4 linked regions of the Homo sapiens genome follow. Each later gene encodes a partner of the first gene's protein in a complex. Each region holds a gene or a part of one and is shown in the gene's direction. Other genes may lie near its edges. The genes, in order: F2, FGG, THBD and SERPINA5.

What was found.
Region 2: the proteins of F2 (region 1) and FGG are in contact, whole or in part, in a crystal structure (PDB 2HWL), measured with the Homo sapiens proteins. Residues at the interface, in NP_000497.1 of Homo sapiens: His450 (codon at 6,507), Pro451 (codon at 6,510), Arg452 (codon at 6,513), Arg461 (codon at 6,540), Arg486 (codon at 6,615), Ala489 (codon at 6,624), Ala490 (codon at 6,627), Leu493, Ile530, Val531, Glu532, Arg533, Cys536, Asp546, Asn547, Met548, Phe549, Cys550, His605, Phe607, Arg608, Leu609, Lys610, Lys611, Trp612, Lys615; in NP_068656.2 of Homo sapiens: Pro439, Ala440, Glu441, Thr442, Glu443, Tyr444, Asp445, Ser446, Leu447, Tyr448.
Region 3: the proteins of F2 (region 1) and THBD are in contact, whole or in part, in a crystal structure (PDB 1DX5), measured with the Homo sapiens proteins. Residues at the interface, in NP_000497.1 of Homo sapiens: Phe382 (codon at 5,803), Ser385 (codon at 5,812), Pro386 (codon at 5,815), Gln387 (codon at 5,818), Leu423 (codon at 5,926), Arg425 (codon at 5,932), Thr432 (codon at 5,953), Arg433 (codon at 5,956), Tyr434 (codon at 6,459), Arg436 (codon at 6,465), Asn437 (codon at 6,468), Glu439 (codon at 6,474), Lys440 (codon at 6,477), Ile441 (codon at 6,480), Met443 (codon at 6,486), Lys470 (codon at 6,567); in NP_000352.1 of Homo sapiens: Ser424 (codon at 6,095), Cys425 (codon at 6,098), Glu426 (codon at 6,101), Cys427 (codon at 6,104), Tyr431 (codon at 6,116), Ile432 (codon at 6,119), Leu433 (codon at 6,122), Asp434 (codon at 6,125), Asp435 (codon at 6,128), Thr440 (codon at 6,143), Asp441 (codon at 6,146), Ile442 (codon at 6,149), Asp443 (codon at 6,152), Glu446 (codon at 6,161), Asn447 (codon at 6,164), Gly449 (codon at 6,170), Phe450 (codon at 6,173), Asp479 (codon at 6,260).
Region 4: the proteins of F2 (region 1) and SERPINA5 are in contact, whole or in part, in a crystal structure (PDB 3B9F), measured with the Homo sapiens proteins. Residues at the interface, in NP_000497.1 of Homo sapiens: Arg383 (codon at 5,806), Pro386 (codon at 5,815), Glu388 (codon at 5,821), Leu389 (codon at 5,824), Leu390 (codon at 5,827), Cys391 (codon at 5,830), His406 (codon at 5,875), Cys407 (codon at 5,878), Tyr410 (codon at 5,887), Pro412 (codon at 5,893), Trp413 (codon at 5,896), Asp414 (codon at 5,899), Lys415 (codon at 5,902), Trp455 (codon at 6,522), Glu457 (codon at 6,528), Asn458 (codon at 6,531), Leu459 (codon at 6,534), Asn506, Arg541, Ile542, Asp562, Ala563, Cys564, Glu565, Gly566, Asp567, Val588, Ser589, Trp590, Gly591; in NP_000615.3 of Homo sapiens: Gln241, Lys295, Lys296, Arg297, Thr368, Ile369, Phe370, Thr371, Phe372, Arg373, Ser374, Ala375, Arg376, Leu377, Asn378.

Annotation. Positions count from the first base shown.
Region 1 is NC_000011.10:46,722,207-46,729,226, forward strand, and holds part of F2 (prothrombin preproprotein), read left to right. Parts: intron 1-973; coding exon 974-1,079; intron 1,080-1,175; coding exon 1,176-1,312; intron 1,313-3,652; coding exon 3,653-3,967; intron 3,968-4,291; coding exon 4,292-4,420; intron 4,421-4,504; coding exon 4,505-4,631; intron 4,632-5,789; coding exon 5,790-5,957; intron 5,958-6,457; coding exon 6,458-6,631; intron 6,632-7,020. UniProt on the Homo sapiens protein: Thrombin, which cleaves bonds after Arg and Lys, converts fibrinogen to fibrin and activates factors V, VII, VIII, XIII, and, in complex with thrombomodulin, protein C. Functions in blood homeostasis, inflammation and wound healing.
Region 2 is NC_000004.12:154,609,655-154,617,594, reverse strand, and holds the start of FGG (fibrinogen gamma chain isoform gamma-B precursor), read left to right. Parts: upstream 1-4,938; 5' UTR 4,939-4,985; coding exon 4,986-5,063; intron 5,064-5,159; coding exon 5,160-5,204; intron 5,205-5,393; coding exon 5,394-5,577; intron 5,578-5,696; coding exon 5,697-5,790; intron 5,791-7,397; coding exon 7,398-7,528; intron 7,529-7,831; coding exon 7,832-7,940. UniProt on the Homo sapiens protein: Together with fibrinogen alpha (FGA) and fibrinogen beta (FGB), polymerizes to form an insoluble fibrin matrix. Has a major function in hemostasis as one of the primary components of blood clots.
Region 3 is NC_000020.11:23,046,664-23,054,329, reverse strand, and holds the start of THBD (thrombomodulin precursor), read left to right. Parts: upstream 1-4,657; 5' UTR 4,658-4,825; coding exon 4,826-6,553; 3' UTR 6,554-7,666. UniProt on the Homo sapiens protein: Endothelial cell receptor that plays a critical role in regulating several physiological processes including hemostasis, coagulation, fibrinolysis, inflammation, and angiogenesis.
Region 4 is NC_000014.9:94,576,856-94,584,425, forward strand, and holds the start of SERPINA5 (plasma serine protease inhibitor preproprotein), read left to right. Parts: upstream 1-4,570; 5' UTR 4,571-4,635; intron 4,636-4,759; 5' UTR 4,760-4,855; intron 4,856-7,570. UniProt on the Homo sapiens protein: Heparin-dependent serine protease inhibitor acting in body fluids and secretions. Inactivates serine proteases by binding irreversibly to their serine activation site. Involved in the regulation of intravascular and extravascular proteolytic activities.

The DNA of each region.
Region 1 (7,020 bases):
ATATCAGGTGCTGGGGATTTTAAGAGAATCAAATACAGTCTCTGCCTTCAAGGAATTCAAAATCTCAAAAGAGAACAAAAATACAAAATATTAAAATGATTGCGGCCGGGTGTGGTGGCTCAAGCCTGTAATCCTAGCACTTTGGGAGCTGAGGTGGGCGCCCAGGCCAGGGGTTTGAGACCATCCTGGCCAACATAGTGAAACCCCCAACCTCTACTAAAAATACAAAAATTAGCTGGGGTGTGGTGGCACGCGCCTGTAATCCTAGCTACTAGGGAGGCTGATGGGGGAGAATTTCTTGAATCTGGGAGGCAGAGGTTGCAGTGAGCTGAGATCATGCCACTGCACTTCAGTCTCGGCAACAGAACAAGACTCATCTCAAAATACATAAATAAAAATAAATAATTCAATAAAGTGATTGCAAGAAAAGTTCTGTTCAAGGCACCAAGAGACCACAGGAAAATGAGTGTCTGGTTTGCCAGAAAAATGAGAGATGGCTTCCCAGGAGAGGCAGAGTTCTGCCTGGCCTGGTGGGATGCATGGATGAACAAACAAGTGGGCATTCCAGTCAGAAGAAACAATCCGTGGAAAGACCCAGAGGCATGAGAAGCTGAGCTAGCAGGGACAGGTAGACCAGGGCCAGTTGAAAAGGACCTTCATCACTTTTTCATCCTGCTGGCCAAGAGAAGCCACAGAATGGAAGCTCCATGAGGGCAGGGCTGTGACTGTCCTATTGGTTGATGTGTACTGAGCACCCGACAGTGCCTGTCATATGGTAGGCACTTAGCGAATATTTGGAGGCCACTGTTGAGTGAATGGGAGAACTGCTGGTTGCAGAGGAAGAGGGGCTGGGTGAATGCAGGTTCAGGATTGTGGACCTGCATGAGCTGGGAGGTGGGGGATAGACAACTTTGCAGGGAGAGAGGAAATAAGTCCCCAGGCTCCAAGGCTGACCGGGGTGGGGTCTCCGCAGGTAACTGTGCTGAGGGTCTGGGTACGAACTACCGAGGGCATGTGAACATCACCCGGTCAGGCATTGAGTGCCAGCTATGGAGGAGTCGCTACCCACATAAGCCTGAGTGAGTGAGGGGCCGGCCTTCCCACCATGGGCTGAGAACAGGGAGCAAGCGTACCTCAAGCCCAACAGCCTCCTGTTGGGCAATTTCCTGTTCCAGAATCAACTCCACTACCCATCCTGGGGCCGACCTACAGGAGAATTTCTGCCGCAACCCCGACAGCAGCACCACGGGACCCTGGTGCTACACTACAGACCCCACCGTGAGGAGGCAGGAATGCAGCATCCCTGTCTGTGGTAAGCTGGGGGCAGTGGGGCGGCCCATGGCCAAGGCCCGGGGGCTTCATGGGGCCTGGCAGCCTGGGATGGGAACCAAGAATACTGGCTACCCAGGCACAGTGGCTCATGCCCGTAATCCCAGCACTTTGGGAGGCTGAGGCAGGCAGATCACCTGAGGTCAGGGGTTTGAGACCAGCTGGGCCAACATGGCAAAACCCCGTCTCTACTAAAAATACAAAAATTGCCAGGCGTGGTGGTGGGCGCCTGTAATCCCAACTACTCTGGAGGCTGAGGCACGAGAATCGCTTGAACCCGGGAGGCGGAGTTTGCAGTGAGCTGAGATCCTGCCACTGTACTTCAGCCTGGGCGACAAGAGCAAAACTCTGTCTCAAAGAAAAAAAAAAGATGCTGGCCACCTTCAGAGCTGGCGTCAGTCATTCAGATCATATCTGTGCCTATTGCTCAGTAAAGTCAGGGAATCAGGGGATCTGAGTGGGGGGATCTGCCAGCCTCCTCCTCCCCCTCCCCACTCTTGACTTCCTTATGGTCCAGGCTGTGGCTCATTCCAAACATGCCTCCTTTCTGATCAAGGCACTCCTCCCTCCGGGAAGCCCTCCCTAGCCATTTCAGTCCACACACCCTGTTCTGAGTATCACAGAGCAAGCCTTGTGCAGTTTGGCCCTGCGGGATTCTGTCATTATTATTTCCTTGGTGTGTTAAGTAGCTATAGCCACCCCTTCCCTGAGGCAGACCACAATAAGCATTTCTTTTTCCCATGAGGGTTGGCAGGTGTGGCTGCACTCGCTAATGCGTCTGTAGGGTCAACTGACGGAGGTTGGCCCTGGCTGGGTGGCTCTGATTCAAATAATGGGTCCAGCTGAGTCTGGCTCCTCGTTGAGGGTTGGGCCTAGATCTGCTCCACGTGCGTTCATGCTGGGGCTGAGGCTGAAAGAAGGTACCTGGGAAAACTCTTCTTATGCTGATGACAGACACAGAAAACAATGAACAGAAAAGCGTCTTCTGTCCTGAAGGCCTGGCTCAGAACAGGCACAGTCAGCCCTGCCCACGTTCCATTGGCCAGAGCAAGTATATGTTCAAGGCCAGGGTCAAGAGGTAAACTACACCTCAGCCTGTAAAATCACAGAGCAAGGGATGTGGATGCAGGCAGGGGTAAAGAATTTGTGCCGATTACCAGTCCACAAACATGGGTTAGTGTTTGTTCTCTAGGCATCCCTGTCGGGCCCATTGCTCATTCCTGGGGTTGGTCTTTTTTTTTTTTCTTTCTAAGATGGAGTCTCACTCCCTTGCCCAGGCTGTTGGAGTGCAGTGGCCCTATCTCAGCTCACTGCAACCTCCGCCTCCTGGGTTCAAGCGATTCCCCTGCTTCAGCCTCCTGAGTAGCTAGGATTACAGGCGTGTGCCACCACTCCTGGCTAATTTTTTTTTATGTTAGTAGAGACGGGGTTTCACCATGTTGGCCAGGCTGATCTCAAACTCCTGACCTTGTGATCCTCCCGCCTCGGCCTCCCAAACTGCTGAGATTACAGGGGTGAGGCACTGCGCCCGGCCTTTTTTTTTTTTTTTTTTGAGATGGAGTCTCACTCTGTCACCCAGGCTGGAGTGCAGTGGCATAATCTTGGCTCACTGCAACCTCCACCTCCTGGGTTCAGGCGATTCTCTGCCTCAGCCTCTCATATAGCTGGGATTACAGGCACACGCCACCACGCCTGGCTAATTTTTGTATTTTTAGTAGAGACGGGGTTTCTTCATGTTGGCCTGGCTGATCTTGAACTCCTGACCTCCGGTGATCTGCCCAGCTCGGCCTCCCAAAGTTCTGGGATTACAGGTGTAAGCCACTGCGCCTGGCCCCTGGAATTGGTCTTATAGCAAGTTTATCCCAACAAAAACAGCTACTATTTACTCCCCAACCCCCATACACACGCACACACATTGATGATAAATAAGTTGCAGGCTTGCAGAAATTGACCCATCCAGGTGAACAGCCTAGTGATCCCAGCAAGCGTCCTGCTGTGCAGCTATAAAAACATGACTCCTCCAGCAGCTCCAGGCAGCCACTACCAGTTAATTACAGATGGCCTAGGAGGCCAAACCTGGTTACTATCTCTGGTTTATTATGTGCCAGACACTTATGCTGTATATTTTGTTTAATCCTCTCAACAAACCTGCAAAAGTGGCATTAGTAACCCCTTTAAAGGCAAACGGTCAGAAGCCCAGAGAGGTTAAGTAACCTGAGGTCACACAGGCAGAAAGCAGCAAGACCGGGGTTCACACCCCTGTCTGTTCCGGTCCATGTGTGGTCTCACTCACTCTGCTGCCTCCTTGCCCCTCACCCACCAGGCCAGGATCAAGTCACTGTAGCGATGACTCCACGCTCCGAAGGCTCCAGTGTGAATCTGTCACCTCCATTGGAGCAGTGTGTCCCTGATCGGGGGCAGCAGTACCAGGGGCGCCTGGCGGTGACCACACATGGGCTCCCCTGCCTGGCCTGGGCCAGCGCACAGGCCAAGGCCCTGAGCAAGCACCAGGACTTCAACTCAGCTGTGCAGCTGGTGGAGAACTTCTGCCGCAACCCAGACGGGGATGAGGAGGGCGTGTGGTGCTATGTGGCCGGGAAGCCTGGCGACTTTGGGTACTGCGACCTCAACTATTGTGGTGAGCTGCCTGGGTAGGGGGCCTGAGTTGCAGGGACAAATCCTGGTGGGAATAACAACAGCCGCTTCTGCTTATCGAACGCTTACCTCATTGAGTGCGCTCATTACAGCCTTACAGTAACCAGGTGGGGGGTAAGGTCCTGTGCCCATTTCACAGATAAGTACACTGAGGCCCCAGGAGGTTATTGCCTAGTAGCCCAACTGTGCATGCACGCTTAACCTCTGCACCAAATGGCCTCCAAGGCCCGTAGGGGAATTGGGGGGATCTAGGGGATGGGTGAGGAATGGCCCAGCCCAGTCCCAGCCGGTGCCTGGGTCCCAACAGAGGAGGCCGTGGAGGAGGAGACAGGAGATGGGCTGGATGAGGACTCAGACAGGGCCATCGAAGGGCGTACCGCCACCAGTGAGTACCAGACTTTCTTCAATCCGAGGACCTTTGGCTCGGGAGAGGCAGGTGAGGTAGTGGGCATCCGAGGGGATGCGGGGCTGCGGGGCTGGTGGCCAGGACTTGCCCCTCACTGCTTGGCTTGCTCTGCAGACTGTGGGCTGCGACCTCTGTTCGAGAAGAAGTCGCTGGAGGACAAAACCGAAAGAGAGCTCCTGGAATCCTACATCGACGGGCGCATTGTGGAGGGCTCGGATGCAGAGATCGGCATGTCACCTTGGTGTGTCCTGGAGCCCTGCGCTACCATTCACTCCTGGGGGCAGGTGTGCTGCTGGACCCCCACCCTCAGGCCCTGCCTGCAGGCCTGGGCTTTACAGATGACAACAGCTGAGCATCCAGGATCCCACCAACTCCACACAGCAGCCACATGAGATGGGTTGTTTACTTCTTTTTTTTTGTTTCTTAGATGGAGTCTTGCTCTGTCACCTAGGCTGGAGTGCAGTGCTGCAATCTCGGCTCACTACCTCGATCTCAGCTCACTGCAACTTCTGCCTTCCGGGTTCAAACGATTCTCTTGCCTCAGCCTCCTGAGTAGCTGAATTTACAGACATGCGCCACCACACCCGGCTAATTTTTGTATTTTAAGTAGAGACAGGGTTTCACCATGTTGGCCAGGCTGGTCTTGAACTCCTGACCTCAAGTGATCCACCTGCCTCAGCCTCCCAAAGTGCCGGGATTACAGGCATGAGCCACCACACCCGGCCCATGGGTCCTTTACTTCTAAGCAGATGGTAAAGCTGAGACTGACGGAGCTGGTGGCTCACCTCCGCGCACAGCTAATGGGTTTGAATCCAGTTCTTCTGATTCCAGAGCTGTGCTACGCTATGTGAACTCTGGACTGGAAGGACCTAGTTAGGGGGTGCAAAAAGCAGGAGGCAGGTCAGGTGCAGTGGCTCACCCCTGTAATCCCAGCACTTTGGGAGGCCAAGACAGGAAGATCACTTGAGGGCAGGAGTTCGAGGCCAGCCTGGGCAAAATGGTAAAACCCCGTCTCTACTAAAAATGCAAAAATTAGCCAGGTGTAGCAGCATGTCCCTGTAGTCCCAGCTACTAAGGAGGCTGAGGCGGGAGGATCGCCTGAGCCCAGGAGGCTGAGGCTTCAGTAAGCTGTGACTGTACCATTGCACTCCAGCCTGGGTGACAAGAGTGAGACCCTGTCTCAAAAATAAATAAATAAATAAATAAAAAAGTGTGAGGCAGCCCCTCAGCATCACACGGAGGCTCCAGGCCCCAAAGGCGGCCAGCCCAAGCTTGGATCTGGGCCCCGGAGGCAGCTCTGCCCAGCTGGGTTCTTAGACCTGGGATTGTTACTTCTAGGGCTGGTGTAGAGGCAGCCCCCTCATCCTCAGCTCCTAATGCTTCCTGCTGCCCCTCCCAGGCAGGTGATGCTTTTCCGGAAGAGTCCCCAGGAGCTGCTGTGTGGGGCCAGCCTCATCAGTGACCGCTGGGTCCTCACCGCCGCCCACTGCCTCCTGTACCCGCCCTGGGACAAGAACTTCACCGAGAATGACCTTCTGGTGCGCATTGGCAAGCACTCCCGCACCAGGTACAGAACTGGTGGCCCGTGGGTGTCTGGCAGGGGTCTGAGTCCTCCAAAGCGATCATGAGGGGCCCTGGTGGCTCCGGGACACATAGGATGTTCTGTATACCCCCCAGAATATAACATCCCAGCAGTCTCTGCTGGAAAGCCCATTTGGTCACGTCCTGACTGAGGCTTGGAGCTGCGGGGAGAAATCCGTCTGTCTCCTGGTCCCTCCAACACTAGGATATAGCCCATGTGGGAGTCTCTGAAAATAGAGTCTGTCTGGACTAGGGCGTGCAGCCTGTGCCCCTGTCCCCGTCCTCCAGGCTGTCTGACTCCAAAGCCCTGCACGGCTTTAGGCCCAGGAAGAAACACCCAGGGGGCTGCCATGGCAGGAACCAGCCCTATCCCCTCCCTGGTGGCCTGCAGGACACACTGTCTCCCAGACCCCAAGGGCAGGCAGTTTCCTGCTCCTTGCTGGGTGAACCTGCAGCTTCTCCATTTCTTTCTTGGGGTCTCTGCAGGTACGAGCGAAACATTGAAAAGATATCCATGTTGGAAAAGATCTACATCCACCCCAGGTACAACTGGCGGGAGAACCTGGACCGGGACATTGCCCTGATGAAGCTGAAGAAGCCTGTTGCCTTCAGTGACTACATTCACCCTGTGTGTCTGCCCGACAGGGAGACGGCAGCCAGGTGGGCCACCAGATGCTTGTTAGCTGAGGGGCAGAAGCCAAGTTCTGGGCCTGGCTCTGATACCAAGTAGCCTTGCAAGAGCCCCTTTCCCTTTTCCAGGCCTCGGTTTCTTGGAGTGAACCCAAAAGTTCTTTTCAGTACTGGCGTTTTATTTTTTATTTATATTTATTTATTTACTGACGGAGTTCCACTCTTGTCTCCCAGGCTGGAGTGTAGTTGTGCGATCTTGGCTCACTGCAACCCCACCTCCTGGGTTCAAGCGACTCTCCTGCCTCAGTCTCCTGAGTAGCTGGGATTACAGGCTAATTTTTGTATTTTTAGTAGAGACTGGTGGGTTTCACCGTGTCGGCCAGGTTGGTCTCGAACCCCTGACCTCAAGTGATTCACCC
Region 2 (7,940 bases), on another chromosome or scaffold:
AGTTTATATGACAAAATAACTACAGTTTTTCTCAAACAGGGGCCTGTCCACTTTCAACATAGGCCAGTATTTCTACTCAAAGGCTTAAAAAGTTTCTTCTTTCCGGAGCACATTCTTGTGAATATAACTTGGCCCCTTGGTTGGTGGTGGTTTATTTTTCCCCCCAAACTCATTTGCTCTTGTAAATCTCCTGCTAATCATATTTAGTCATGAAAATTCTTTCATGGGGTGAGAGATTTAAAATCGTAGATTACACAAAGATGGAAAAACACAAACAAACCAGTAGCAGATACCAATGTGGCACAGCAAAACACTTAAATCCAACTTCTCTGTTCAATTTGTCTCAATCCAGGGCACCTCAGATCATTCCTTAGTCTCAAACTAGTATTAAAAATGGCTAATTTCCAGCCTCTTTGGCCTCTGTAATTGCCAATGGGATAATCCTTCTTTCTCTAGGCACCCAGTACTTTATTTCCTAAATTCCAATCACAGCAGAGATTTTTCAACATCCCTGCCGCTAGGACAGATCCCCCAAATGACACATGTAATGAAACTTTATGAAGTTAAGAAGTGCAAAACTCAACCTGTGGGTGCTGTTCTGCTGCCAGTGAGGGAGTCCATTTTACTTGTGCCCAATGTTGTTTTTGTCTTTGATTTACATAGTGAAACTAAAAGCACATTGTTCACAGACTACCAAGAAACTTTTGCGTTTTCACTTTCCCTGGGCTATTTTTATACACAAAGCAAATATTCTAACAGACAACTCTGTTGCCCTTAATGGGATATTTTTACTATTAGGTTGGACTGGCTTTCAGTATGCCAATAGGTCATTTTCTTTCTGCCAGTTTTTAGGAAATCCAGTTCTGAGGGTTCAGGCTATAAATTTAGCTTAGATCTAGAAATGGTTTACTTGTTAGAAAAACAGATATATCATTGTCGCCATTGATTTGAGCTTCCTTGACCACGCAGTGGCTGTCTCTCCCTTTAACTTACTGATGGAATTCAATTTATCAAGTCCTATTAAACTTGAACCATGCAGTTAGCATTGAAAAACTGCTTCCATCTAAAATTGGACTGAAGCCAGGTGCATTGGCACGTGCCCATAGTCCGAGCTACTCAGGAGGCTGAGGCAAGAGGATCACTTGGGCCCAGCAGTTCAGTTTGAGGCCAGACTGAGCAACAAAGCTAGGCTGCATCTCTAAAGAGAGAGAAAAAAAAAAAAGGACCATAAACACAAGCTAATCATAAAACAACACAAATCTAGGTTTGAGAAATACTCAAAGACTGTAAAAGATCATTCACAAAATCTTGTCTCTAACCCAGAGAAGAAGATAGATAAGTTGGTAGATAGATGTAAATGTGTGTTCAAATAATCATGCACACAGTTATGTAGATGCACACACACATCTTTAAAATCCATTCTATCAGTGAATAACTTTGAGTCTCATAACACCTTGTATCTGTGTATTATTTTAAATTAAGAAGGGCTTCATGGTTGTATTAAGATTCATGGTTAAGAGCACAGGCATTGGGCCCCATGGGTTTGAGTTCCTGTTCTGGCACACTGACCCTGCATATGTTACACAACATCTCTAGGCCTTTCTTTTTTCATTATAAGATACAGGTAATTATATCTACTTCCTAGGCTTGTGGTGAGGATTAAATGAGAGAATATACATGACAACAAAAACTATACTACCACATAATATCTAGCATAAAGAAGATGCTCAAAATTGGTAGTTCTTTCTATTATTCCTTAGGGCTATATCATTTGTCACTAGGTCAAGAAGTCTTCTACATAATCAAATTTAAATTCAGCAAATAATTTTGGAGCAAAGATGAATGTAACAGACTTGGCTCACAGAGTAAATTACCAATATACACGAAGACTGTTAGCTGTAGATTTGTGTTTTCAAATCAGAACACAAACGGTTGGACGATAGGGAATTTGGGACATTATTATTTCAATAAACAAGCCCACTGACCTCAGAGTTACAGTAAATGATTATTTTGGCTTAAATACTACCTATGCTATTATCTCAAAAAACATACCTGGAAGTAGAAGAACTGTGATTTAAGAAACATTCTTCATTCCTGGAATTCATCAATCATTTATCATTTTTCAAAGAAAAAATTGGCCCAAACATGAAAAAACTAGTTAAAATTTAATAAACCTAAGTGATACTAGATTGAATGCAGGGCCAATGTAGACCGCTAAATCACTGTTGACCATTTTTTTTTCTCAGAGAGCAAGCATCTTGTCTTATATGATTTGGATTTAGGACTTGAGATTGTAGTAAAAGGAAATTATTTTCTCTAAAATTGTGATAACACATCTGGATTCCAATATAAGTCAGTTAAAAGCCTGTAATACAAGTATTCCACTTCTAAAATGGGATAAGATAGAATTTCTAATGTCCTCAATTTAAATGTTTATCAACTTTGTGAATATTATATATCTTAACACAACCAATGAAACTTTATGACATTAAGGAGCTCAGAACCCAACCTGTGGCTGCATGAATTGTTACCCTAAATTCAACAAACTAATATTTTATGGTCTTCAGCAAAAAGAACCACAAAGACATGCTCTGTCTAAACACACTTTGCTTGAACATTCTTACAGATAGGAAGTATACCTTCTCACAAGGCATGCAATCCATTTATATTATCATTTGATCTTTGATTGGTAAAATCAATTTGGATAGAATTTCCTAAACTAAACGACCAGGTGCTTTCTTCTCTGGGGAATCTTACAGAAGGAGACTGCAGTTAGTTGCAACAGATTTTTTATTAAAGAGAATTTCTGTAGCTAGAACAACAAAGCTTGTTCCCTGTGAACCAAATCTACCAATAATAGCTCTATTAAAAGAGTTTCCTATTTACATAGATTTTATACCAAATATATTTGGTAATTCATAAACCTTACAAACATTTACTTAACACTTACCATGAATTGGGTAATGTGCTCAACACATTATCCCACTAAATCTTAGTAATAGCCCTATTAAGTAAATACCATATCATAAGTATTATCTCTCTTTTACTGACATGGATAATGGAACTCAAGGAGATTGAGTAACTTGTACTGAATCACACAGCCAGTAAATTGTAAAGATGGGACTCAAACCTAGGGAGATGGACTCCAGAGCCTTAACAACTATTTATTTATACATTCTCCAATTGAGCTACACACTTCTTGAAGGCAAAGGCAATGCCTGAGTCACCTTTCATGTTCAAATCATATTAAAAAGTTAGCAAGATGTAATTATCAGTGTACTATGTAAATCTTTGTGAATGATCAATAATTACATATTTTCATTATATATATTTTAGTAGATAATATTTATATACATTCAACATTCTAAATATAGAAAGTTTACAGAGAAAAATAAAGCCTTTTTTTCCAATCCTGTCCTCCACCTCTGCATCCCATTCTTCTTCACAGAGGCAACTGATTCAAGTCATTACATAGTTATTGAGTGTTAACTACAACTATGTTAAGTACAGCTATATATGTTAGATGCCGTAGCCACAGAAATCAGTTTACAATCTAATGCAGTGGATACAGCATGTATACATATAATATAAGGTTGCTACAAATGCTATCTGAGGTAGAGCTGTTTGAAAGAATACTAATACTTAAATGTTTAATTCAACTGACTTGATTGACAACTGATTAGCTGAGTGGAAAAGATGGATGAGAAAGATTGTGAGACTTAATTGGCTGGTGGTATGGTGATATGATTGACAATAACTGCTAAGTCAGAGAGGGATATATTAAGGAGGAGAAGAAAAGCAACAAATCTGGTTTTGATGTGTTCACTTTGTTATAATTATTGATTATTTACTGAATATGAATATTTATCTTTGTTTTTGAGTCAATAAATATACCTTTGTAAAGACAGAATTAAAGTATTAGTATTTCTTTCAAACTGGAGGCATTTCTCCCACTAACATATTTCATCAAAACTTATAATAAGCTTGGTTCCAGAGGAAGAAATGAGGGATAACCAAAAATAGAGACATTAATAATAGTGTAACGCCCAGTGATAAATCTCAATAGGCAGTGATGACAGACATGTTTTCCCAAACACAAGGATGCTGTAAGGGCCAAACAGAAATGATGGCCCCTCCCCAGCACCTCATTTTGCCCCTTCCTTCAGCTATGCCTCTACTCTCCTTAGATACAAGGGAGGTGGATTTTTCTCTTCTCTGAGATAGCTTGATGGAACCACAGGAACAATGAAGTGGGCTCCTGGCTCTTTTCTCTGTGGCAGATGGGGTGCCATGCCCACCTTCAGACAAAGGGAAGATTGAGCTCAAAAGCTCCCTGAGAAGTGAGAGCCTATGAACATGGTTGACACAGAGGGACAGGAATGTATTTCCAGGGTCATTCATTCCTGGGAATAGTGAACTGGGACATGGGGGAAGTCAGTCTCCTCCTGCCACAGCCACAGATTAAAAATAATAATGTTAACTGATCCCTAGGCTAAAATAATAGTGTTAACTGATCCCTAAGCTAAGAAAGTTCTTTTGGTAATTCAGGTGATGGCAGCAGGACCCATCTTAAGGATAGACTAGGTTTGCTTAGTTCGAGGTCATATCTGTTTGCTCTCAGCCATGTACTGGAAGAAGTTGCATCACACAGCCTCCAGGACTGCCCTCCTCCTCACAGCAATGGATAATGCTTCACTAGCCTTTGCAGATAATTTTGGATCAGAGAAAAAACCTTGAGCTGGGCCAAAAAGGAGGAGCTTCAACCTGTGTGCAAAATCTGGGAACCTGACAGTATAGGTTGGGGGCCAGGATGAGGAAAAAGGAACGGGAAAGACCTGCCCACCCTTCTGGTAAGGAGGCCCCGTGATCAGCTCCAGCCATTTGCAGTCCTGGCTATCCCAGGAGCTTACATAAAGGGACAATTGGAGCCTGAGAGGTGACAGTGCTGACACTACAAGGCTCGGAGCTCCGGGCACTCAGACATCATGAGTTGGTCCTTGCACCCCCGGAATTTAATTCTCTACTTCTATGCTCTTTTATTTCTCTCTTCAACATGTGTAGCAGTAAGTGTGCTCTTCACAAAACGTTGTTTAAAATGGAAAGCTGGAAAATAAAACAGATAATAAACTAGTGAAATTTCTGTATTTTTTCTCTTTTAGTATGTTGCTACCAGAGACAACTGCTGCATCTTAGATGAAAGATTCGTAAGTAGTTTTTATGTTTCTCCCTTTGTGTGTGAACTGGAGAGGGGCAGAGGAATAGAAATAATTCCCTCATAAATATCATCTGGCACTTGTAACTTTTTAAAAACATAGTCTAGGTTTTACCTATTTTTCTTAATAGATTTTAAGAGTAGCATCTGTCTACATTTTTAATCACTGTTATATTTTCAGGGTAGTTATTGTCCAACTACCTGTGGCATTGCAGATTTCCTGTCTACTTATCAAACCAAAGTAGACAAGGATCTACAGTCTTTGGAAGACATCTTACATCAAGTTGAAAACAAAACATCAGAAGTCAAACAGCTGATAAAAGCAATCCAACTCACTTATAATCCTGATGAATCATCAAAACCAAGTGAGAAAATAAAGACTACTGACCAAAAAATAATAATAATAATCTGTGAAGTTCTTTTGCTGTTGTTTTAGTTGTTCTATTTGCTTAAGGATTTTTATGTCTCTGATCCTATATTACAGATATGATAGACGCTGCTACTTTGAAGTCCAGGAAAATGTTAGAAGAAATTATGAAATATGAAGCATCGATTTTAACACATGACTCAAGTATTCGGTAAGGATTTTTGTTTTAATTTGCTCTGCAAGACTGATTTAGTTTTTATTTAATATTCTATACTTGAGTGAAAGTAATTTTTAATGTGTTTTCCCCATTTATAATATCCCAGTGACATTATGCCTGATTATGTTGAGCATAGTAGAGATAGAAGTTTTTAGTGCAATATAAATTATACTGGGTTATAATTGCTTATTAATAATCACATTGAAGAAAGATGTTCTAGATGTCTTCAAATGCTAGTTTGACCATATTTATCAAAAATTTTTTCCCCATCCCCCATTTATCTTACAACATAAAATCAATCTCATAGGAATTTGGGTGTTGAAAATAAAATCCTCTTTATAAAAATGCTGACAAATTGGTGGTTAAAAAAATTAGCAAGCAGAGGCATAGTAAGGATTTTGGCTCCTAAAGTAAATTATATTGAATGTGGAGCAGGAAGAAACATGTCTTGAGAGACTAAGTGTGGCAAATATTGCAAAGCTCATATTGATCATTGCAGAATGAACCTGCATAGTCTCTTCCCTTCATTTGGAAGTGAATGTCTCTGTTAAAGCTTCTCAGGGACTCATAAACTTTCTGAACATAAGGTCTCAGATACAGTTTTAATATTTTTCCCCAATTTTTTTTTCTGAATTTTTCTCAAAGCAGCTTGAGAAATTGAGATAAATAGTAGCTAGGGAGAAGTGGCCCAGGAAAGATTTCTCCTCTTTTTGCTATCAGAGGGCCCTTGTTATTATTGTTATTATTATTACTTGCATTATTATTGTCCATCATTGAAGTTGAAGGAGGTTATTGTACAGAAATTGCCTAAGACAAGGTAGAGGGAAAACGTGGACAAATAGTTTGTCTACCCTTTTTTACTTCAAAGAAAGAACGGTTTATGCATTGTAGACAGTTTTCTATCATTTTTGGATATTTGCAAGCCACCCTGTAAGTAACTACAAAAGGAGGGTTTTTACTTCCCCCAGTCCATTCCCAAAGCTATGTAACCAGAAGCATTAAAGAAGAAAGGGGAAGTATCTGTTGTTTTATTTTACATACAATAACGTTCCAGATCATGTCCCTGTGTAAGTTATATTTTAGATTGAAGCTTATATGTATAGCCTCAGTAGATCCACAAGTGAAAGGTATACTCCTTCAGCACATGTGAATTACTGAACTGAGCTTTTCCTGCTTCTAAAGCATCAGGGGGTGTTCCTATTAACCAGTCCCGCCACTCTTGCAGGTTGCTATCTGCTGTCCCTTATGCATAAAGTAAAAAGCAAAATGTCAATGACATTTGCTTATTGACAAGGACTTTGTTATTTGTGTTGGGAGTTGAGACAATATGCCCCATTCTAAGTAAAAAGATTCAGGTCCACATTGTATTCCTGTTTTAATTGATTTTTTGATTTGTTTTTCTTTTTCAAAAAGTTTATAATTTTAATTCATGTTAATTTAGTAATATAATTTTACATTTTCCTCAAGAATGGAATAATTTATCAGAAAGCACTTCTTAAGAAAATACTTAGCAGTTTCCAAAGAAAATATAAAATTACTCTTCTGAAAGGAATACTTATTTTTGTCTTCTTATTTTTGTTATCTTATGTTTCTGTTTGTAGATATTTGCAGGAAATATATAATTCAAATAATCAAAAGATTGTTAACCTGAAAGAGAAGGTAGCCCAGCTTGAAGCACAGTGCCAGGAACCTTGCAAAGACACGGTGCAAATCCATGATATCACTGGGAAAGGTAACTGATGAAGGTTATATTGGGATTAGGTTCATCAAAGTAAGTAATGTAAAGGAGAAAGTATGTACTGGAAAGTATAGGAATAGTTTAGAAAGTGGCTACCCATTAAGTCTAAGAATTTCAGTTGTCTAGACCTTTCTTGAATAGCTAAAAAAAACAGTTTAAAAGGAATGCTGATGTGAAAAGTAAGAAAATTATTCTTGGAAAATGAATAGTTTACTACATGTTAAAAGCTATTTTTCAAGGCTGGCACAGTCTTACCTGCATTTCAAACCACAGTAAAAGTCGATTCTCCTTCTCTAGATTGTCAAGACATTGCCAATAAGGGAGCTAAACAGAGCGGGCTTTACTTTATTAAACCTCTGAAAGCTAACCAGCAATTCTTAGTCTACTGTGAAATCGATGGGTCTGG
Region 3 (7,666 bases), on another chromosome or scaffold:
CAGCTTCCACACCTGGGCAATGGGGACAGTCACTATGGATGTCTCTAGGGCAGATGGGAAGCCTAAGACAGGACATGCTTCAATTTCTTCCCTATGCCTCCATCCCTGATTTTTTTTCACAATTGCTTATTGTTATTAGTGGTAGAAATGCTTGGCTGGAACAAATTAAATCCAACAGACATTTGGTGAGTCCCTACCATGGAAAAGAAACCATGCTGGATATTGAATACAATCAGATGCCGAATCCAAATTCTAGGGACTTGAGTGTTTTCTTTTTTGCTAAAATTTATTGAGAGCTGACTACGGCTCCTCTGTTCTAAATGCTTTACATGTATAACCCATTTAATCTTCATCCTAACACTTTGAAGGAGGGACTATTCCCATTACACAGTCAAGGAAACTGAGCTACACGGGGAGGGGTTATTAGTCAAATCTTAACAATAAACAAAAACTTGTGAATGCCGGAGCTGGGTCTCCAGTGCAGCCAAGTCGGCTCCAAAGTCCACACTCTTAATTCACCCTGAGGCTCTGAGGTCCCCCATCCTTGTCTTTGCAGGTGAATGTGAGAAAATCACCCTGGAGAGGACAAAGAAACATCTACCACAGGTGCTCCAATAAGCTCTGGGCACTGTCTAGTTACAAAGCGTGCTGTTAGGTGTAAGGGGATACAAAAATGTGTGGGAATCTGGAGTATAAGTGCAGCAAAAAGTGTGGTATATGCATGATTAGGTACAGGGCAGGGAGGGAGTGGTGAGTACTAAAGAGCTGAGAGAACGACCTGTCTATGGGAATCACAGACAGATCAGTTCTGGTTGGGTTATTCAGAAAACTTGCTGATGGGGAAGCTTGAACTGGGACTTGAAAGAATGGAAAGATTTCAGTGGGTGAAGAGCCTGGCAGACGAGAATGTTGCTAGCAGAGGGAGAGACATGAACTACAGGGTGGAGATGAGCGGACAAGGTGCTTCTCTGACAGTGAGCAGGAGCCTCCCTTGCCAGGATGTTTCCTCATTCATGGAGACCAGCAGAACACTGGTCCTTGAAGCCTTGTGAGGTGCAAGGGGTGCAGGCTCTGGGTCCAAATTCCAGCATAGCCCCTTGAGTGCAAATTTTCTCATCTGTGGCCACAGAGTAGAGGCACTATCGCGAGCATCTTCAGTGCGGAGGGGAAAGAGTATGGGCTCTCCCAGCGGGTGGGAGCAGCACTGAGGGAGTATGAGGATCAGAGTAGCCTCAGCCACGGTGGAGAGCTGGAGAGATAAGCAGCAAGGAAAAGAGCTGGGGACCCAACTGTCTCAGCATAAATTGAGAAGGCAGGAGCAGTGATCAGGGGAAACAAGACACAAAAACTAGGCAGTGGATGAAGGAGAGCAGAAAGTCAAAGGCAAGTGCATGGTTTAAAACCTCAGTGGACCAACTATTGATACTGGGAAAGATGGGGTAAGGGTCCCTTCTAGAATACTCCCTCCCCAATCTCCTTGGACACTGCTATCACTGCCAGGGGAATGGGTAAGTTCACCAAAAGGTGGGTTGTAAAGAGATGATGAAGACCACCAGCAAAACCTTGAGAATGGCCACTCTAGTGGGTGGTACAAGAGGATCCCAGGGGCCTCCCCAAGGCTCACAGGAGAGGAAGGGAGGAAAACATGTGTCTCAAAAGTAATTGGAGGAGGAGCCTTGAGAATGGTGAAGGGTCACAAGTGCAAATGGCACCAAGGCTTCTAGAAGGATGGCTGAAAACAAGATTTTGGCAACAGTATTTAGGACCAGATGGGTGTTCTTCAAGGGAGCTGTTTCAGGAGTAAAGCAAGTCTGCTGGTGGGCCAGAGTGAGGGTGCTGGGCCAGGAACTGGGCCAAGCATTGGGAAGTGGATGTGTTATCTGCAAAGGGATAGGAAGGAGTGGCCCACCCTGGTGTGCAGGGGGCACAGATAGGAAGATAGGGATGGGGCAAGAACACAGACAGGGGACCTTCAGTCACCAGAAGGTAGTCTAAAATATGCAAAGCCTCCAAGGTATTGGCTGGAGAGGAAAAACAAAGCGGCTGAGGGCAGGCCCCACAAGGCAAAGGTATCCTGAGGGTCAGGGGTAAAGCCCTTACAGGTGGGAAAGCCAAGTGGGTCATGTCCACCCATCCTTGTGTAGGGCAACCCAGACACTGTGGTACCCCCCATGGGACAATGCTCTGCTTCTATCTGTTGTTGCTCTAGTTTCTTTCTAATACAGAAACATCCAACATCTGCACCTCCTCATATAGGGTTGATCCAAGTTTCACAGACATCACTGAGTTCTTAGTGGACTCAGCTATTGGGGCTGTTCTCACACTTTTTTTTTCTTTGCAAGAATCAGCAATGGGTGCAAGTGGACCTGTGTAGGACGTCCAGTGAAACATTGTGTTGGTGAATCAGCTAGAATCCATCCAAGAACTCAGCCAGCCTGGTGTGGGGTGAGATCTGATCCTTGAATGTCCCTCAGTGGCTTTTAGGGCTGGCAGGTTCAGAAGGGCCCTCTCATCACCCCCCCAGGGCCTCATTCCTTGTTTAACACTTTGCTATCACAGTCTTGAATCCTTGTAATTGAACAATGGACCCCACATTTTCACTTTGCACTGGTTTCTGATTCTGTAACCGATCCTGTCCCCCTCTCTTGTCTCATTCACTCTGGGAATTGTCCCCACATTCTGAGACCTTTCAGCAGTGCCCCAACGAGGTTCCTGCCCTTATCTGAAGCTCCACCCTCACCCCCATGGCGGCACCGCAGGCAGCCCTGCTTTTGCGTCCCGCGTAGGCAGGCTGTGCACCGGAGTCACGACCCCCTGATTCAGCCTAGGCAGCCACAGCTTGACTGCTCCCGCCGGACAAGCCCTACTGTGCTATCTGCCGCTCTTCCCTTCCTCTTCCCAGGGGGTCCGCGTCAGGGGAGGCGCAGCTGTGTGCATTCCGGGAGCTTCAGACCCCCGTGTCCAGCAGCTCCTTCGTTTCCTGGGTGCTGGGGCGGCCTTCCCAGCGAAGAGCTCAACTCAGCGGGACGTTTGGAGGCTCTCTGCCCCAAGGCGCTGGGGAGTGTGCGGCGGGACAGTCGTGCTTGCCTTTTTCACTTTCAGAGTGTCCACGCCCCACCCGTTTGGTCACTGCAGGTCAGTCCAGTCCAGCCCGGCCCACCCCACCGGTGCGTGTCTGTCGCACGTGGCAGACGCCATACTCTCTGTTCTTGTTTAAAGCCCAGGATCTACTGGGCCCTGGAGGCAAGAGGTGAACGCAGCGGAATCCACGCTGAGCTGCCCGGGAACGGAGCTTCCAACCCCAGAAGGAGGACTCTGTGCTCCTACACCTTAACCCTTTTTAGCCCGAAACTTCTCCAACTTCCTTGGCTTTGTTTAGAGCTCGACAGCGCCGCCCCCTGGCGCTCGTTGTGAGGACAGTAGAGGAGAGAGGCAAGGGTGTTTTTAAACAGTTTGCCTCTCACCATTATGGGGGCGACCCGAGGGGGAGACCCACTCTTCCGCATTCCCGGTAAGTGAACCACCGGAAGAGGTCGAAAGTGACGGATTCCCATGTCCTCCTCCAGCCCCCCCCCCACCCTGCCCATCCACAGGACGGTGGCTCTTCAGTGCCCTTTGCCGAGCAAGTGGCGTTTCTATGCACGTGGGTATCAATTCGGACTCTGGACGAAATGGAAACCTCCTTAGCCGACCCGGGTGGGATCAGCTGGGATCCTGCGCGCTCCCCTGGGGGGTTGCCAGCCACTCTGTTGGGGTGCAAGAAGCACCATCCTTCGGAAGCTGGGCCGAAACTGGCCAGGCTGACTCGCTCCCACGCGCCCGCCCCTACCCGGCGCCGCAGCAATTCACCTGCCACCGCCTCTGAGCCGGGTCCGGACTTCGGCGCCCTGACAGTGTCCCCGCGACTTCCCCACCCGATGAGATGGGGTCTGGCGTTGGCCAGTGCGTGTCCAGGGACTCGCGGGTCCCTGGCCAGCCATGGGGCAGAGGGCGCTGGTGTTAGGCCAGTCTTCCCCACCCTGCCCCGTCACCCCAGCCACACCCACTGTCCTGTGAGGCCAAGCGCGCTCCGCTGGTTTCCTGAGCCAGGCACCTTGGCCGCGGACAGGATCCAGCTGTCTCTCCTTGCGATCCTGTCTTCGGGGAAGTCCACGTCCTAGGCAGGTCCTCCCAAAGTGCCCTTGGTGCCGATCACCCCTCCCAGCGTCTTGCAGGTCCTGTGCACCACCTCCCCCACTCCCCATTCAAAGCCCTCTTCTCTGAAGTCTCCGGTTCCCAGAGCTCTTGCAATCCAGGCTTTCCTTGGAAGTGGCTGTAACATGTATGAAAAGAAAGAAAGGAGGACCAAGAGATGAAAGAGGGCTGCACGCGTGGGGGCCCGAGTGGTGGGCGGGGACAGTCGTCTTGTTACAGGGGTGCTGGCCTTCCCTGGCGCCTGCCCCTGTCGGCCCCGCCCGAGAACCTCCCTGCGCCAGGGCAGGGTTTACTCATCCCGGCGAGGTGATCCCATGCGCGAGGGCGGGCGCAAGGGCGGCCAGAGAACCCAGCAATCCGAGTATGCGGCATCAGCCCTTCCCACCAGGCACTTCCTTCCTTTTCCCGAACGTCCAGGGAGGGAGGGCCGGGCACTTATAAACTCGAGCCCTGGCCGATCCGCATGTCAGAGGCTGCCTCGCAGGGGCTGCGCGCAGCGGCAAGAAGTGTCTGGGCTGGGACGGACAGGAGAGGCTGTCGCCATCGGCGTCCTGTGCCCCTCTGCTCCGGCACGGCCCTGTCGCAGTGCCCGCGCTTTCCCCGGCGCCTGCACGCGGCGCGCCTGGGTAACATGCTTGGGGTCCTGGTCCTTGGCGCGCTGGCCCTGGCCGGCCTGGGGTTCCCCGCACCCGCAGAGCCGCAGCCGGGTGGCAGCCAGTGCGTCGAGCACGACTGCTTCGCGCTCTACCCGGGCCCCGCGACCTTCCTCAATGCCAGTCAGATCTGCGACGGACTGCGGGGCCACCTAATGACAGTGCGCTCCTCGGTGGCTGCCGATGTCATTTCCTTGCTACTGAACGGCGACGGCGGCGTTGGCCGCCGGCGCCTCTGGATCGGCCTGCAGCTGCCACCCGGCTGCGGCGACCCCAAGCGCCTCGGGCCCCTGCGCGGCTTCCAGTGGGTTACGGGAGACAACAACACCAGCTATAGCAGGTGGGCACGGCTCGACCTCAATGGGGCTCCCCTCTGCGGCCCGTTGTGCGTCGCTGTCTCCGCTGCTGAGGCCACTGTGCCCAGCGAGCCGATCTGGGAGGAGCAGCAGTGCGAAGTGAAGGCCGATGGCTTCCTCTGCGAGTTCCACTTCCCAGCCACCTGCAGGCCACTGGCTGTGGAGCCCGGCGCCGCGGCTGCCGCCGTCTCGATCACCTACGGCACCCCGTTCGCGGCCCGCGGAGCGGACTTCCAGGCGCTGCCGGTGGGCAGCTCCGCCGCGGTGGCTCCCCTCGGCTTACAGCTAATGTGCACCGCGCCGCCCGGAGCGGTCCAGGGGCACTGGGCCAGGGAGGCGCCGGGCGCTTGGGACTGCAGCGTGGAGAACGGCGGCTGCGAGCACGCGTGCAATGCGATCCCTGGGGCTCCCCGCTGCCAGTGCCCAGCCGGCGCCGCCCTGCAGGCAGACGGGCGCTCCTGCACCGCATCCGCGACGCAGTCCTGCAACGACCTCTGCGAGCACTTCTGCGTTCCCAACCCCGACCAGCCGGGCTCCTACTCGTGCATGTGCGAGACCGGCTACCGGCTGGCGGCCGACCAACACCGGTGCGAGGACGTGGATGACTGCATACTGGAGCCCAGTCCGTGTCCGCAGCGCTGTGTCAACACACAGGGTGGCTTCGAGTGCCACTGCTACCCTAACTACGACCTGGTGGACGGCGAGTGTGTGGAGCCCGTGGACCCGTGCTTCAGAGCCAACTGCGAGTACCAGTGCCAGCCCCTGAACCAAACTAGCTACCTCTGCGTCTGCGCCGAGGGCTTCGCGCCCATTCCCCACGAGCCGCACAGGTGCCAGATGTTTTGCAACCAGACTGCCTGTCCAGCCGACTGCGACCCCAACACCCAGGCTAGCTGTGAGTGCCCTGAAGGCTACATCCTGGACGACGGTTTCATCTGCACGGACATCGACGAGTGCGAAAACGGCGGCTTCTGCTCCGGGGTGTGCCACAACCTCCCCGGTACCTTCGAGTGCATCTGCGGGCCCGACTCGGCCCTTGCCCGCCACATTGGCACCGACTGTGACTCCGGCAAGGTGGACGGTGGCGACAGCGGCTCTGGCGAGCCCCCGCCCAGCCCGACGCCCGGCTCCACCTTGACTCCTCCGGCCGTGGGGCTCGTGCATTCGGGCTTGCTCATAGGCATCTCCATCGCGAGCCTGTGCCTGGTGGTGGCGCTTTTGGCGCTCCTCTGCCACCTGCGCAAGAAGCAGGGCGCCGCCAGGGCCAAGATGGAGTACAAGTGCGCGGCCCCTTCCAAGGAGGTAGTGCTGCAGCACGTGCGGACCGAGCGGACGCCGCAGAGACTCTGAGCGGCCTCCGTCCAGGAGCCTGGCTCCGTCCAGGAGCCTGTGCCTCCTCACCCCCAGCTTTGCTACCAAAGCACCTTAGCTGGCATTACAGCTGGAGAAGACCCTCCCCGCACCCCCCAAGCTGTTTTCTTCTATTCCATGGCTAACTGGCGAGGGGGTGATTAGAGGGAGGAGAATGAGCCTCGGCCTCTTCCGTGACGTCACTGGACCACTGGGCAATGATGGCAATTTTGTAACGAAGACACAGACTGCGATTTGTCCCAGGTCCTCACTACCGGGCGCAGGAGGGTGAGCGTTATTGGTCGGCAGCCTTCTGGGCAGACCTTGACCTCGTGGGCTAGGGATGACTAAAATATTTATTTTTTTTAAGTATTTAGGTTTTTGTTTGTTTCCTTTGTTCTTACCTGTATGTCTCCAGTATCCACTTTGCACAGCTCTCCGGTCTCTCTCTCTCTACAAACTCCCACTTGTCATGTGACAGGTAAACTATCTTGGTGAATTTTTTTTTCCTAGCCCTCTCACATTTATGAAGCAAGCCCCACTTATTCCCCATTCTTCCTAGTTTTCTCCTCCCAGGAACTGGGCCAACTCACCTGAGTCACCCTACCTGTGCCTGACCCTACTTCTTTTGCTCTTAGCTGTCTGCTCAGACAGAACCCCTACATGAAACAGAAACAAAAACACTAAAAATAAAAATGGCCATTTGCTTTTTCACCAGATTTGCTAATTTATCCTGAAATTTCAGATTCCCAGAGCAAAATAATTTTAAACAAAGGTTGAGATGTAAAAGGTATTAAATTGATGTTGCTGGACTGTCATAGAAATTACACCCAAAGAGGTATTTATCTTTACTTTTAAACAGTGAGCCTGAATTTTGTTGCTGTTTTGATTTGTACTGAAAAATGGTAATTGTTGCTAATCTTCTTATGCAATTTCCTTTTTTGTTATTATTACTTATTTTTGACAGTGTTGAAAATGTTCAGAAGGTTGCTCTAGATTGAGAGAAGAGACAAACACCTCCCAGGAGACAGTTCAAGAAAGCTTCAAACTGCATGATTCATGCCAATTAGCAATTGACTGTCACTGTTCCTTGTCACTGGTAGACCAAAATAA
Region 4 (7,570 bases), on another chromosome or scaffold:
CAAAACCTACCCCTCAGCTCACACCAGGTCCATTCTCCTTCCTTAATGTGTCTCCTCCTCTCCAGCCTCACCCCCGCTTCCTTGGCCCACACCACCATCATCTCTCGCTTGGATTATCACAGCAGTGTCACTTGGTCCTGTCTTGATCTCCAGGTGACCATACCCGTGACAGCCCAAGATAATTTATCCCTCCTTTACTTACAGAATGAAGTTCAACCCTGGTTCCCAACCCAGCAGGACTTCCAAGCCCTCCATCTGGCCCTGATCTGGCTTCTCTCTGTCCTCCCTTCCTCCTCTCTGATGGGCTCCCGGTGCCCCACCACCCCCTTAGCCTGTACTGCTATCACTCCTGTGGTTCTCTCAGCCCAAAATGCAGCCTCCCACTGCTGTGCTGTAAGCTATTCTGTCTGTTCACTCCTCTCCACCCAGCCAGGGCTGATAAAAACCTAGACAAGGTTCAAAAACCCAGATCCAAGGTCACCACCTTCACAAAGCTTTTCCTATTCCATTCCTCTCTCCAACCACGGGAGAATGGACCATTCCTCCCTGTGTGTCTTTATTGTGGAGACATGTGTCAGAGCATCGACTCTCTATCTTTAGTTCATCTATTGAGATATTGATCTCTCTTCTTGAGGCCAGGGGTATTTTCTGGGACATGGTTAGATCTCAATAAACATTGATACTGGAGGGATGAAATGAAGGAAGGATGGATAGAAGGCTATAAGGATGGGTGGATGGATAAATGGATGGATGGATGGATGGATGGATGGATGGATGGATAGATGGATGGATGGAAAAATGGATAGATGGATGGGTGGATGGATGAATGGATGGATGGATGGATGGATGGATGGATGAATGGATGAATATATGGGTGGATGGATGGAAGGAAGGAAGGAAGGAAGGAAGGAAGGAAGGAAGGAAGGAAGGATGGTAGAAGAAAGGTAGTACCAGTATGCTTTAGCTCATGCAGGCAAACAGATGATGGGCAGAGGGAAGCATGGTGGCTGATTACAGGAGGATCATAGCAGATGTTTAAGGCAAGATTGACAGCCCCACAAAGACTGAGAAGAGAAGATAAGAAAAATGGGAAAGTTATTAAGACACAAGACCTAGATCAGGAGCTAGAAGCTGGATCCCAGAACAAGGCAAGAGCCTAATGACTCGAGTAGCCAACTCATCCCAGTTTGCCAAGGTCTTTGCCAGTTTTAGCACTGAATATCCCACACCATCGGAAATTACTCAGTCCCAGCAAATTGGAATGGTTGGTCACCCTACTAGTAATTAAGACCAGTGCCCCACTTCAGAGCAGAAGCATCAGCCAGGCCCTGAGTGACATCTTGTAGGCTCTTGAACTGGTCTCACTCAATCCCCATGAGGCCCAATACCATGGAACAGAGGGCAGGGAGGCTGAGGGCCAAGCAGAGGAGCACCTGTGCTCAGCAGGGCAAGGCATCACAGGGGCCAACATTGGTTTCCCTGCCCTTCTCCCAGAAACCACCTCCCCACTTTGATCCTTTCCCATGCCCTGCTAGGCTCTAGGACACCAAATTCTCATATTCTAGCCACTGGCCCTCCCTAGGCAGTCACCCTGGGTGTTATGGACTGAATTGCTTCTCCCGCAAATTCTTATGTTGAAGTTTTAGCCCTCAGTGTGACTGTAGAGATTGGGCTTTTAGGGAGGTAATTAAAGTTAAATAAGGTTATAAGGGTGGCACTCTAATCTGATAAGATTGGTGCCCTTTTAAGAAGAGGAAGAGTAATCAGAGAGCTCGCTCTCTTCCTCTGCCCAATCCCTCTCTTGGGGGGTGTGTGTGTGTGTATGTGTGTGTGTGTGTGTGTGTGTCCAGTGTGGGCTCACAGGGAAGAGGTCATGGGCGAACAGAGTGAAGGCAACCATCTATAAGTGCCAGAGAGCCCTCACCAGAGACCAACCCTGACGGCACCTTGACCTTGGATTTCCAGCGTCCAGAACTGTAAGAAAATACATTTCTATTGTTTAAGACATCCAGTGTGTGTTTAAGCCAGGCCAGTGTGAGGTATTTTGTTACAGCAGCCAGAGAAGACTGATACACTGGGGTGCCATGCCCCCGAGACTCCTTCCAAATCTCTCCTTTCAAAACGCACCACCCTCAGTCCTGATTCCTTCAGAGCTCTTTCTGCATGGCAGTGGGAGTCATGAGTTACCTCAGACTTTCCCCCAAATTCTCAAGACATTCCTTAAGATGTAAGCTTGGGAAACGGCATGTGATGTCTTTCCCTCGTGGGTGGTCAGAGCACAGACAGCACACACAGGCTGGAGACGGCCCACAGGAAAGGTGGGCTAACCACCTTTCCCAAAGTAGTTTCATCTGGAACCCATTTGGGCGGTGTTACACTAGTTTCTGATGGCTGCTCTAAGAAGTTATCACAAACAGTGGCTCAGACAACACAAAATTCTTCTTTCATGGTTGAAGAGGCCAGAGGCCTCACTGGGCTAGAATGAGGATATTGGCAGGGCTCCACTCTTTCTGGAGGCTCTAGGGGAGGATCCATTCCTTTCCCTCTCCAGCTTCTAGAAGCTTCCTCACTCCTTGGCACCTGGCTCCGACATCACATTGACTTTTCCCTTCCTGCTTCTACCATCACATCACCTTCTTCTGACTCCAATCTCCTGCCTCTTTCTTGCAAGGATCCTTGTGATTGTAATTAGGACCCAGCTGGATAATCCATGACAATCTCTTCAAGATCCTTAACTTAATCACATCTGCAAAGTCCCTTTTGTCATAGAACGATAACATTCACAGGTTCTGGGTATTAGGACACGGATAACTTCGGGGTTCCATTACTCACCCATAACTGGTATGCAGTGCTGATTTCCATCCTGTAGGTACGGTTTAGGGATCTCTAGGTCAATGAGATAATGGACTCTTGCTCATGTTACATGGCATAATGGGAAGAAAGCCAAACCTAGAAAAAGAGGGACTCAGGTTCCCTTGTTAGAGCCTCTTCTTACTAACTGTGGGATTAGGGGCTGATTCCCTGACCTGCTGTGTTCTGTCTTCTCTCCAATTCAATGGGAATGAACTGTGAGGGCACTGAGCAAAAACTAAGGTCTCAATACCTAGTAGTAGTGGGACTTGCCTCTGGATACCCAGTAGTGATCCTGCCGCCTGTTTCTGGATATCCTACAGTAGCAATCCCACCTGTTTCTGGATATCCTACAGTAGTGATCCTGCCTGTTTCTGGATATCCTACAGTAGCAATCCCGCCTGTTTCTGGATATCCTACAGTAGTGATCCTGCCTGCTTCTGGATACCCAGAAGTGATCATGCCTGGTTCTAGATACCCAGTAGTGATTGTGTTTCCTCTAGATACCCAGTAGGTATTGTGCTTGCTTCTAGAGATGTAGTAGTAGCTGGACTTAGCTCTAGATACCCAGTGCTCATCTCTAGACTGGGCTGAGATCAGTGTCTCCCTTGAAGGGTTATTGTAAGGATGAAAAAAGATAATGCGTTTAAAGCACTTGGTGTAGTAGGTGGTCTTTTTAAAAGTGTGAATAAATACTAGTTCTTATTATTTCTGTGGATATCCAACAGCCACATAATTGGGCCCCAAAGCCATGAAGAAGGAAGAGGAAATGTCTTAAAGGTTGTCGATGGACAGTGTTTGCTGAACATCAAAATCACTTTCCAGGTATTACCTCTGATTTGCTCTACCAACTCCACACCCCACCTGCAGCCACATAACCTTCCATGATCACGGCCATGCACAACACACCATGTCCCCCAGGCAAGGGGACCTTAGAAACATAACCAGGCTTGAGACAGCACTCTGCACCGGTGTCTTGGAAATGCTCTTAAGAGTGTATGGCTGAGTTAGGGAACCAGGATTTCAAAGTAGAAAGGGAGAATCTACCCAAGCCCATAGAAATCCTGAATCCACTCCTTTCTCAGCAACAAGCACTGGCCTGGGAGTCAGCCACTTATGCACCAACCCCACTCTGCCCCTAATTAAATGCATGACTTTGAAAATTCCCCTCATTCTTCTGAGCCCCAATTCAGTGATTGGTGCAATCACAGGCTTGGCTACAGTGACCCATTCATTGCAGGCATGGTGAGTCTCTCAATCCCTCTCATTTCCACTAGAATCTAACTGTTGGGATCTATGACCCAGTCAGCATAGCAGGCCTGTGGGGAGCTCTCAGGTTCAAGCATATGCCCCCCCTAATCTACAAGAAATTAGCTGCAGAAAACCAAGGAATAGAACCTGGAAAAAGAGAGGGTTTGCTAGAGCTGTCCCTTTCCCTGTCTCTGGAATGCCAACAATAGGGAGGCTCTTTGGTCTTGTCTCTCAGGAGTGCCCATGCCATTCCAGGAAAATGATGGCCCAGCTGGTGGTGTAAGGCTTGGGGGGCAGCGAGTGGGCATCGTGGTGAAAGCCTCGGGATCAGGGAGCTGCGTCTGCAGGCAGGCCTGCTGGCCGGAAACCTGCCAGGAAAGGAAGGGGCTGTCCCGGGGCGGGGCCAGGGAGGGGTGGAGACAGGGCCGGCTGTGGTCAGTGACAAATGCTGGCTGCAATCCAGCCAGCCCTCTGCCCTTTCTGAGCCCGAGGGACTGCCACCTCCACTGTGTGCACACTCAGCTACGGGACACAGTAAGTACCGATGCCGCAAAGGGAGGTCCCCAGGGCTTGAGGGCATGTGAGGCGAGGAGAGGATGGACTCTAGAGTTTTGGGGTTTGGGGTCTGCAAAGCTCTGAAGGAGTCTCATCTCTGCAGTTTCAGGTATCCAAGGCAGCAGAGGTGAGTGGGTCCCCCGAGCTCTGTGACCTTATGCTCCACACTAACTCTGGCAGAGCCTCCGTTTCCTCATAGGTAAGATGGAAATAATTACACCCTCTGGATGGTGTGACTGAAGATTAAATACAGCGGGTGCTCTCACTCAGCACATCTGGCCATGTCTGCAGACACATTTGGTTGCCACAACTGGAAGGGGGGTGGGGGTTAGTGACATCTAGAGGCCAGCGATGCTGCTGATGATCCCACAATGCCCAGGACAAGATCACAAAGCATCATCCTGTTCAAAAGGTCAACAGGATCAAGGTTGAGAGACCCTGAAATAAGGCCATGGGGACAAAATGTCGGCTGGATAGGAGGTGCTCAGTAAGTGGCAGCTTCTGTTGTTTTCTGTGCCTGGAGTCTTGGGCCTTTAGAAATCAGGAACAATGATCCAATATTATCGGCTTCCGTGAGATAAGGGCATCTTGCCTGGAGGCTGCCACCCAGGCCGGTCATGGCAGCTGCTCATGAAGGACAGTAACAATTTGGCAGTTTGTTAAATGAACAAAATGTAGAAATAAAGTAAGCAGAATTTTTAGTTTTTCTGAAGGTAGGGCTTTTGGCCAGATATGCAGCAATAAAAGAGCAAACTGCTTCCTTGGGCCAGTGTCCTTGCTCATAGATCAGGAAACCGAAGCATGAAGAATACAGGCGGCAGATGCCTGAAGGTAACGGACGTGTTCATGGTGCTGACGGTGATGATAAGTGACAGATGTAGACTCATCTCCAAACTTGTCAGGTTATAGACATTAAATATGTGCAACTTTATGAATAGCAGTCATGTCTCAATCAAGTGGTTTTAATAAAGAAATAATAGGAAGCCAGAGCTGAGAGACAGGGAGGGAGTTGTTCAAGGTCACCTGGCAAGTGAGCTCCGGGGCGGGGAGAGCTCAGCTCTGGGTGGCCAGCCTGGCTTTTTCCACTGCTCAGTGTCCAGCTTGCAGTCTAATGTCTCTGAATTACAGAGAAGGAGACTGGTCAGTTCATTCATTCATTCATTCTACAAAGGTTTATGGAGCATCTCTCCTGACTGCAAGCTCTTGAAGGTGAGAGCAGCACAAATGAGGGTCCCATGGAGAGAGAGGCCGGAATGAAAAATGTCAATGACAAATGCATATATAAAGGCACATGTGTAATTGAAAGAGCTTTGAGAGAAAGAGTCAAGGGACTGTTCCAGAGAATAGCCATGGAAGGGGAAAAGGTCCAGTGTGATAAGGTATTGCAAAGAAGTGACATTTAAGCAAAAGCCTGCAGCCTATGCAGAAGTTGGCCTCAGTGAGAAAGGTTGGGGGAGGGTTCCAGTAGAGAGGGAAGGTATGCAAAGGCCCAGAGTTAGGACAGAACTTGCTGTGTTTGAGAAACTGGGAAAAGAAGAGTGAGCCTGGGGGTATCACGTGATCCAGGGCAGAGCAGGTCCAGGCCAGGTGCAGCCAGGTCACAGCAGCCCTAGTGGGTTAGAGCACAAATCAAAGTTTAGCATTTATCTGAAACACAGGAGTTGGCCATGAGTTTCTTAGGCGAGGAAGCGCTGTGACCATATTTATGATTGAAGGAGATTCTTTTATATGCTGTATATAGAAAGCCTTTCAGGGCAAAGAAAGGAAGCTACTGGGGTAGCCCTGGGGGAGATGAAGGGAGCTTCCACTGGGGGCAGTAAGAAAGCCAGGGAAAGGCGGCAGCTTTAAGACCTGTTTTGGAGATAGAACGGACAAGCTTTGCTGATGGGCTGGAGTGGAACAGGAAGTCAAGATTACTTCTTCTGGGAAGTTCTGTTCCTGGGTCTTTAGGATCTAGAGGAAGCTGTGACTTTGTCTCTCATCTCTGCCTGGGCTCCAAGCCTCACATCCCTTTTTGTAATTAGAAGATATTGGACAGACCGTCCTCACTAACACAATTCCCACAGCTGAGTCCAGGGTAGAACTGGGCAGGACTTCACTGCCCAACACGGGAAATATCAGTCAGCAGATTTGGGTTTCGGGGATGGTGGTGGGCCAGCGGGAAGACTGACCAGGGCCTACCCATCACATCCCCACCACCTCCCACCTCAATTCACCTTGGCCTGAGATGACAGGTGAACATGACTGATCCTCTCTCTTCCCTCTGCAGAAACACTAAAGCCAGGGACCAGGAGAGGGGCAGCCCAACCAAGCTTTCAAAGCACTCAGTAGAGGCTGGTCTGGGGGATGGGAGGCTCCCAGGGCTTCACCTGTCTCTGTCAAAGCCATGTATTTCCACCAGAGGCCCAAGAGTGCGATGGCAAACCCTGGATTTGAAACTAAGAAACGTAAAACAAGCACTGAGGACTCCACTGCCTCTTGAGTGACCTCTCTGACCCTCTGTTTCTTCTGCACTGTTAGGATAATGATACTAACTCCATGTTGTTGTAGAGAAGTATAAATGAGCTAATACAGGTGAACCGCCTGGGGATACCAGGAGGTGAGGTCGAGGAGGAACGAGGTATCACTCCTCAGAGCCACTCAGAGACAGGCTGTGCACGAGTCAGAGGAACCTGGATTTTAATTCCGGTTCCATCACTCAGTAGCTGAAACAAGCTATTCCACTTCACTTAGCCTCAGTCTATTCAATCTGTAAAATAGAGTGAGTTTACTTTTGGAAAACTCTGTAAAATAGAGAGCTTACTTTTGGTGAAGGTTAAACATAGTAATATTTATGGAGTGTCTAGTATGTCTTTAATAATTAGTGGTTTTACTGAAAAGTAGAGAGAGTTGGCCCAGAGGGAGCAAGATTTCT